Linked DNA regions of Homo sapiens. The protein of the gene in region 1 purifies or fractionates together with the protein of each later gene. This does not show direct contact. Each region holds a gene or a part of one and is shown in the gene's direction. Other genes may lie near its edges.

Region 1 (5,758 bases):
GCAGGTGGAGAATAAGAATAGCACAGGAAAGGCCTGGCAGCAGGAAGCAGGCAGGATGTCTGGGGAGCAGTGGGTGTGCCTGCAATGGGGTCAGGGTGGAGGGGTAGGGGTATAGGAATTAGATGGATGTTTTCAAGGATTTGGGACCTCTGTTCTTTGGTGTTTGTTTGACACATCTGAAAAGAATGCATACACAAAGAATTATCATGTGAGAAAGCATTGGTTAACGCTAAGGTAATAATTAGGATTTGTGGAAGGTGGAAAAAATTACCTAAACATTTTTAGCAATTGGGAACTGCAAAATAAGCCGATAACATCCCTGTTAACACTTAGGAAGAGTCTTCATTCATGACATCTGTTAAACTAGAGAGCCTCCATTGGCTGTTGGAAGGTTCCTCAAACACAAAACAGAAACAAGGGGAGTCCCTTGACTGGTTCCCATGTTCTTAAGTGTTCTCCCCGCCCCTTCTCCAACCTCAGCTCCTCGATGAAGCAGACCTCCATAACTTGAAAGAGGGTGTTATCATTCCATAGACATCTATCTTATACAGAGCATCACCCTCACATTTCTTCTACATGCTGGGTCTTCAGCTGCGTTCTAGGAACACCATGTCACACACTCTTAAGCTGCACATTTATGCTAAGCATATGAGAGAATGACAGGAAAGACTTTTTTTCAGATTATGAACTCACTCCATTTAGTGTATTTCAGAAGGTGCATACTTCTCTTCATCTGTCAGTGAAAGAAGTTGGAAATTAACTTTGAAAAATAAATCAGCAAATAGCAAATTTTCTCAAAAGTTACAGTCACGTATATAGGGCAAGAAATGAGGAAGGGCAAGACAGACTCCACCCACATTAGTGAGTTTCATCAAACACCCAAGGGTGGAGAGAAAAGGCAGCTTTCAGAAAGGACTGTGTTATGAAATGAGGCAGGTGGGGAATGTGTTTTCTAAACTAGATCTAGGAAGTGGAATGTGGAATCAATCTGTCCTCCTCCCTTTAAGGACTGTCCACTGGTTAATAAATTTTTTAAAAGACTAAAAAATAAACTCCTCACACACAAACACCCGCAAAACAAACAAACAAACAAACAAACAAAAAAAACAGCATTAAGATGTCCCATGTTACTCTCGAGGGGAACCAAGGAGCAGCTTAACAATTAGCATTAGTGTACTAGAGAGTCATTACAAGCATGCCTTGCTTTTAAGCAAACAAAAAAATTTTTTGAAGCAACAGAACAAACGAGTACTGATCACTTTTCTGACAATAAACAATGATTCAAAAGTAACTAGTATTAGGATGGGGAAGGGAACCATACCTATGAGCCTTGTCTTGCAAGAGTATATGTTGGTAGGATTAGGCATTTGTCATTATTGCAGAGAATGAACTTCAATTTTTTTTTTTTTGAGACAGGGTCTTGCTCTGTCACCCAGGCTGGAGTGCAGTGGCGAGATCTGGGCTCACTGCAACCTCCACCTCCTGGGTTCAAGTGATTCTCTGACCTCAGCCTATCAAGTAGCTGGGACTACAGGCATGCACCACCATGCCCGGCTAATTTTTATATTTTTAGTAGAGATGGGGTTTCACCATGTTGGCCAGAGTGGTCTCGAAGTCCTGACCTCAGGTGATCCACCCGCCTCAGCCTCCCAAAGTGCTGGGATTACAGGTGTGAGCCACCGCGCCTGGCCTAATTTTTAATTCTTAGTTTGACTTAAACCTTGCTTTTAGTGTGATGGCGACAAAAGCTGAGCTGAAAGGGCTTTGGAGAGATGTTCACAGCAGCACATGCCTGAGGCTCTCTCTTCTTTGGCTCTGGAGGCTTGGTTAACAGCATTCTTTTTTTATTTTATTTTATTATTATTATACTTTAAGTTTTAGGGTACATGTGCACCATGTGCAGGTTAGTTACATTTGTATACATGTGCCATACTGGTGTGCTGCACCCATTAACTCGTCATTTAGCATTAGGTATATCTCCTACAGCTATCCCCTCCCCCCTCCCCCCACCCCACAACAGTCCCCAGAGTGTGATGTTCCCCTTCCTGTGTCCATGTGTTCTCATTGTTCAATTCCCACCTATGAGTGAGAATATACGGTGTTTGGTTTTTTGTTCTTGCGATAGTTTACTGAGAATGATAATTTCCAATTTCATCCATGTCCCTACAAAGGACATGAACTCCTCATTTTTTATGGCTGCATAGTATTCCATGGTGTATATGTGCCACATTTTCTTAATCCAGTCTATCATTTTTGGACATTTGGGTTGGTTCCAAGTCTTTGCTATTGTGAATAATGCCGCAGTAAACATACTTGTGCATGTGTCTTTATAGCAGCATGATTTATAGTCCTTTGGGTATATACCCAGTAATGGGATGGCTGGGTCGAATGGTGTTTCTAGTTCGGTTAACTGCATTCTTTAGGCCCTTCTCTGTGAGTGCAGAATGCTCTGCATACTCAACAGCCTTCCAGTCCGAGGCCAGTCTGGAGTGATAGGCTTCTGTTTTTTGTTCTTGGCAAGTTTTACAAGAGTAGAGGGATCATTCTCTGAGATGAATTTGGGTCTCGACAAGCAAGAAAGGAATCTTTGGATAGCGGTGAGTTATCACAGGCACCCACTTTTCTTTCACATTTTTGAATGAGGACGGAGATACCACTGAAAAACTGACTAGAAATACATCTGTTTGTAGATACTTAGCAATTGCAATCTTTTATAACCCTCTTGCCCAGAAGTGTCAAAAAGTCCAAGAGCATATGGCTCTCCACCAACCATAACCATGACCACATAGTTGTTAGAAATAGTTGGTACATTTTCAGATGTAAATTTGTTTGTTGTGTAGGATATCGGTATGTTTTACCAATGGCATCATTGCTTACAACAGCACACTTAATGGTCTGCATTGCTGAAATAGTTTTGTATTTACTTTAAATATTTCGAACTTGATGTTGACCTCAGCTTCTCCCTGGGGCATGGCGGCACTCAGGACCTCTCTCCTAGACAGTGCTGGCATTGCAGTTGGAACTTGGGCCTCTCACTCTACCCTAACATGCTCTCCTCACCCCAACTCTTCCAAAGACTGTGACTCCCAAGGAAATGAATGCTTTGTGCCCTGCACCACATGCTAATCCCAAGCTCAGTTCCAGAGTGCAGCTGGCTTTGTGTGATCTTCTATCTCTGGTTTTCATCTATGAGGAAGGGTTCTGCCCATTGACCCAGAGGACCCTCTCTGAGCTGACACCTAAGCTTCTTTATTATAAATGGTGACTTCATATTTAAACTTAAATGCAAACAATACTAATTTGAAAAGAGAAAAGTATATTTCCATATAGGCTGTGTGCTCTTGAAGGTCAGAATATGTTTCTCCTTTTCAACCTACATTTCCTGGGCGTCCACCCTTGGTAAAAGAAAAAAAATGGGCTGGGTGCAGTGGCTCGTGCCTGTAATCCCAACACTTTGGGAGGCTGAGGCAGGAGGATCACTTGAGCCCAAGAGTTCAAGACCAGCCTGGGCAATATAGTGAGACCTCATCTCTACAAAAAAATAAAATAATCAGCCAGGCATGGTGGCACATGCCTATAGTCTCAGCTACTCCAGAGGCTGAAGTAGGACAATCGTTTGAGCTAGTAGTAAGCCGTATTCATGCCACTGCACTCCAGCCTGGGGAGACGCTTTCTCAAAAAAAAAAAAAAAAAAAAAAAAAAATGACTCCCCTGTCTACGTGGACCTTGGAATGGGAAGGTGGGAAGACCATCAATGAATAGCAACAATCATGTGATCTGTCCAGCGACCAAAGAAGTAGGAATAGGAGAGAAGGGGAAGCAGAAAGAACAACCATTTCTGGGGTCTGGAGGCGTGAAAATGCCTGGCATATTTAGGAATGCTGACATGGCAAAAGAGACTGGGAAATAGGCAACAGCTAGCTCTTCAAGGGCCTTAGATATAGTGCTAAGGAATTTGGGCTTTCTCCTAGAGGCCAAAGGGAGCTGTTGAAGGTTTTGGAATAGGGGAGGGATCCGGGATGGGGTATACGCCAAGAAATGAGGGTGGGATTCTGCAGACCACCATGGCAGGCTGCAGACAGAACCATCCACTGTGGGTGTTGGGGCTGGGGAGGATGACTGGCATCCCAAGTTGGAGCCCTCTTCATCTCTACCACCTGCAACATGACAACACCATGAGAGCTCAGGCATATCTCGGCGCCTCTCCAAGCCTCAGTCTCTGCTGCTGCACAAGGGGAATGATAAGCCATTATGGGGTTAGAATGAGGATTTAATGTCATAGCAGGTATATAAACTGAAGAGAGGTAGTGAATGGTGGCTGTTGACCAGGTGTGCCAGCCTTAGAAGACTCCAAGGCTTGGTGCTCATGCCCACAGGGCACTTCACCCCCTTGTGTCTGAGCTGTCTGCCACCAGGTGAGAGCTTTGTGAGCACAGAGGCCAGCACAGCCTCACCCTACATAACAGGTGCTGAGAGCTTCGTGTGACATAGCCACTGAGCTAACCATGTTACAAATGTTAGTTCCTTTCATTATATCAGGTGATACTATATAGCATATTTTATTCACATTTTGTAGTGGGAAACCAAGACACAGACAGATGGGCTAACAGGCTCAAGGTCACACAAAGCCACTCAATTCTGACTCCTGAGCCTGGGAACAGTAGGCCTTTATTATTAGTTATTTTAAATGCCATCTTACTACAAAGGCAATCTGTGGCTGCTAGACAAAAACCAAACAGGATAGAACTGGCTGGAGCAACAATTTCAAGTCCCCTGTCCTTCCCTACTTCATTCCCAGGGGCAATCAGTTCATCACTTGATACATGTTGAAAGTTCTTGAAAATTAACAGTTGTCCTTAAGAACAGAAGTATGAGCACAATGGTAACTCCTGGACTGGTTAATTTCTTGCTAAAAGTTATTTAACTGATGGTGATTGGTTAATTAGCTAGCTGTAGGCATTAGTTTATGTCTTCATTTATTCATTCATTCAGCAGACATCCTCTTAGCCTTCACTCAGATTCATTCCCTGTCTAGGGCAAGAGAGATGTCTCAACTCTACCAGCTGCCATCCAGCTGTAGGACCAAGGGTTAGCTGCTTAAACTTTCCTTTCTCGGGAAGTTGATAATAAGTGAAGGATTATTATTAGAATTCTGTGAGATCATGCATGTAAAGTGTTTAGCAAGCACCCAGCACAGGGTAAGTGCTCAGTGGTTGCTGCTGGGAAGCTGGAGGAGAGCTCACATGACGGTTCCCCAACAAACATTTGTGTGTGGAACTGGGCTGTGTTCAAGAGGCATGGCGGGACTCCCTAAGGGGCCCACAAACCCCATGGGGTGGGGGTCAGTCAAGTGAGTCAAGTGCACATACAATAGACGTGTGTACAGAGTGGTATGGACCCAAATATCTTCTCCTCTTGGTTTCTCAGGCTGTGGGATTCTCTCTATAGGTCTTGGGTGGATTAGCATTCTCTGTGTCTCTCTCTTTCTCTGTCACACACCTGCACATTCTCTCATTCTCTCCCTCCCTCCCTCTGTGTGTGCGTGTGTACGTGTGTGTGTGTTCCTCTCTCCTAATCGCCTTCCTCAGGGCATGTGTGAGGGCTCCTTAGGATTCTGATTGCCTGTGAATGGTGGGTACTTCAGGGGGATTTTGCAGCCAGGTAGAAAAACATGGAGAGACCCAAGTGTGTCCCAGGGGTGCCCTGGCTATGGAGAAGCGGCCCCATTTGTTAAGAAGCAGCAATTAATGATTTGTCA
Region 2 (4,085 bases), about 62 Mb from region 1:
ACACTTTTAAACGACTAGATCTTGTGAGAACTCACTCCCTATCATGAGAACAGCAGAACAGCAAGGGGAAAATCTGTCCCTATGATCCAGTCACCTTCCACCAGGTCCCTCCCCCAACATTGGGAATTATAATTCAACATAAGATTCGGGTGGAGACACAGAGCCAAACCATGTCAATTCCACCCCGGCCTCTTCCAAATTTCATGTTCTTCTCACATTTCAAAACACAATCATGCCTTCTCAACAGTCCCCCAAAGTCTTAACTCATTCCAGCATTAACTGAAAAGTCCAACTCCAAAGTCTGATCTGAGACAAGGCAACTTCCTTCCACCTATGAGCCTGTAAAATAAAAAACAAGTTAGTCATTTCCAAGATACAATGGAGGTACAGGCATTGGGTAAATGCTCCCATTCCAAGTGGGAGAAACTGGCCCAAAGGAGCTAAAGGCCTCATGCCAGTTTGAAACCCAGCAGGGCACTCTTTGAATCTTAAAGCTCCAAAATAATCTTTGACTCCATGTCTCACATCCAGGCCACTCTGATGCAAGGAGTGGGCTCCCAAGGCCTTAGGCAGCTCTGCCCCTGTGGCTCTGCAGGGTACAGTCCCCATGGTTGCTTTCACAGGCTGGTGTTGAGTGCCTACAGCATATCCAGGTACACAGTGTAAGCTGTCAGTGGATCTACCATTCTGGGGTCTGGAGGATGATGGCTCTCTTCTCACAGCTCCACTAGGCAGTGCCCCAGTGGGGACTCTGTGTAGGGTCTCCAACCCCACATTTCCCCTCTGCACTGCCCTAGTAGAGGCTCTCCATGAGGGCTTCACCCCTGTAGCAGACTTCTGCCTGGACATCCAGGCGTTTCCATACATCCTCTGAAATTGAGGCAGAGGCTCCCAAACCTCAGCTCTTGCCTTCTGCACACCCATAAGCCCAACAGCACGTGGAAGCTGCCAAGGCTTGGGGCTTGCACCCTCTGAAGCAATGGTTCAGCTGTACCTTGGCCCCTTTTAGTCACAGCTGGAGCTGGGGCAGCTGGGAATTAGGCTGCCATGTCCTAAGGCTGCACAGAGCAGCTGGGCCCAGGGCCTAGCCCACGAAACCATTTTTTTCCTCCTAGGCCTCTGGGCCTGTTTGGTGGGGCTGGGGAGGGCTGCCACGAAGGTCTCTGAAGTGCCCTGGAGGCATTTTATCCATTGTTTTGGCTATTAACATTTGGCTCCTCTTGTGCAAACTTCTGCAGTGAGCTTGAATTTCTCCCCAGAAAATGGCTTTTCTTTTCTACCACATGGTCAGGCTGCAAATTTTCAAGCTTTTATACTCTGCTTTGCTTTTAAATATAAGTTATCTCTGCTTATGCAAATGAGCATAGGCTTTTAGAAGCAACCAGGCCACCTCTTGAACACTTTGCTGCTTAGAAATTTCTGCCGGATACCCTAAGTCATCTCTCCCAAGTTCAAAGTTACACAGATCCCTAAAGCAGGGGCACAATGCCACCAGTCTCTGCTAAAGCATAGCAAGAGTGACCTTTGCTCCAGTTCCTGATAAGTTCCTCATCTCCATTTGAGACCACCTCAGCCTGGACTTCATTGTCCATATCACTATCAGCATTTTGGTCAAAACTGTTCAACAAGTCTCTAGGAGGTTCCAAACATCCCTCATATTCCTGTCTTCTTCTGATCCTTCCAAACTGTTGCAACTTCTCCCCGTTACCCAGTTTCAAAGTTGCTTCCACATTTTTTAGGTATCTTTATAGAAATGTCCCACTTCTCTGGTACCAATTTTTTGTATTCTTCCATTTTTACACTGCTATGAAGAACTACCTGAGACTGGGTAGTTTATAATGAAAAGAGGTTTAATTGACTTCCAGTTCCACAGACTGTACAGGAGGATGGCTGGGGAGGCCTCAGGAAATTTACAATCATGGCAGAAGATGAAAGGGATGCAACCACATCTTGTGGCAACAAGAGAGCAAGAGAGTGAAGGGGGAAGTGCTATACACTTTTAAACAATCAGATCTCTTGAGAACTCACTATCATGAGAACAGCAAGGGGGAAATCTGCCCCCATGATCTAATCACCTCCCACCAGATCCCTCCCCCAACACTGGGAATTACAATTCGACATGAAACTTGGGTGGGGACACAGCCAAACCACATCAGCAGGGTAGTGGTAGAAAGAGCATCAAGTGAATTTGGCCCTTTGTAAACGTATAAAAAGACAACAATATAATTACAGCTGTCTTATTAACTTTTTTTTAAAAACTTTCTATTTTGAAACTTCAGGCTTAATAGAAAAGTTTAAAAAATAGAGAATTCCCATATCCCCTTCCCTGAGCTTTCCCTGTGTTAAATTCTTGTATAACCATAATAGAGTTATCAAAACTAAGAAGTCATCACTGGTACTGTATAATTAACTAAACTACAGAGTTTATTTGGATTTCTCCAATTTTTCCACTAATGTCCTTGTTCTATTCCAGGATTCACTGCAGGATCCCACATTGCACTTACTTAGTTGTTGTATCTTTTTGGTTTCTTCAGACCAGTGACAGTTCCTCAGTATTTCCCTGTCTTTCATGACCTTCACACTTTTGAACAGTATCCATCGTGTATTTTGTAGAATGTCCTTCAATTTGGATTTGTCTGTAATGTTCTCATGATTTGATTAAAGTTATGCATTTTTTGACCAGAATACCACAGAAGTGAGTATGTCCTTCTGGATTTATTATATCAGGGGTACATAATGTTAATATGTCTTATTACCAGTGATGTCAACCTTGATCACCTGGCTAAGGTGGTATCTGCCAGTTTTTTCTATAAAGTTATTATTTTCCCTTTGTAATTAATATCTATTTTAGGGGCAGTACTTTGAGGCTATACAAATATCTGTTTTTCCTCAAACTTTTGCCTGCTAATTCTAGCAAATATTGGTAGTTCTTGCCTGCGACAGCCATTACTGTAATGGTTTTTCTATTTTTCTCATTCCTTCAACATGTGTTACATTTATTACAGAATTCCTCTTTAAGAAAGAATTATCTCCTTTCCCCCATTTCCTTGTTTGTTCAATTATTTATTTACATCAGTATGGACTCATTGATACTTATTTTATTCTATGAGTTATAAGGTAATAGTATTGTTTTTTATTTTTTTGCTCAAATTCACTTTTCTTACTCATTTAAATAATGTTGATTGGTTACCCACTCTGTGCCAAGCACTGTGTTTACAACTTTCATTTATATATAAGCTGTCATGTTTAATCACTGAAATAGTCCCAAAAGAAAAAGTAAGTCACATTGTATAGACAATGAAACTAAATCTGAGAAGGGACATACACTAGTTTAAGTAGCAGAACCAGAAGTCAGACCCAGGTCTCCCATATCCACTTCAAGACACCCAACTTATCTGGAGACTCAAGCATATACAGCAAACGAGATAGGAAAGCAAACAGATGCCATTACTGATATATAAAATTCTACATTCCAATTTTGTGAAATTGTAAATGAGCCTAACAGGCTAGCAAGTCAAAATCCAGGAAATCACACAGGCCTGCACACCAGCACCTTGTTGTTCATGCACCTTGCACCTCTGTGGCCTGAAATCCACACACAGGAACTCAGAGGAAAGAGGAGTAGGTTCCATTCTCCAGGATTCCCACTAGAGTCCAGTAAGTTAAAAGAAAAAAAACCACCACAGAATGAACATTAAGCTATCGCTAAACTTAACCCTATCACTTTCATCCCTTTAACCCTAACAGGTGAGATATTCTTGGCCAATGGTAAGAAAGAAAATGGACCACATACCTTCTCAATAGAGGCATTTAACTTCCTGTCAAGTGACGTCTTAGATTAATGTGGAAAAAAAGCCATCAAGTATGATTGTATCAGAGGAGAGACTTGCAAATTAAGACACTGTGGTCTGTGCTGTCAGAATTCAGACCAATCTGCCAAGCGGCTATTAATTCGCCAAAATATGAGACTATCATGAATATTACATGTGTATATTCATATAATGTATATTTAATATATATTTTTATATTTAGCATATATATTTTCATCCCAGCAGTTAATAGGAAAGACAACGAAATATAAGGCA

Evidence for each region.
Region 2: the proteins of SLC22A13 (region 1) and CMSS1 purify together in Homo sapiens (affinity purification with mass spectrometry; one large-scale study listed by BioGRID and IntAct). This does not show direct contact.

The regions. Positions count from the first base shown.
Region 1 is NC_000003.12:38,267,867-38,273,624, forward strand, and holds part of SLC22A13 (solute carrier family 22 member 13), read left to right. Parts: intron 1-5,758. UniProt on the Homo sapiens protein: Anion antiporter that mediates the transport of urate, orotate and nicotinate in exchange for organic or inorganic anions. Translocates urate and orotate across the apical membrane of proximal tubule epithelial cells and involved in urate renal reabsorption.
Region 2 is NC_000003.12:100,179,048-100,183,132, forward strand, and holds the end of CMSS1 (protein CMSS1), read left to right. Parts: 3' UTR 1-2,685; downstream 2,686-4,085.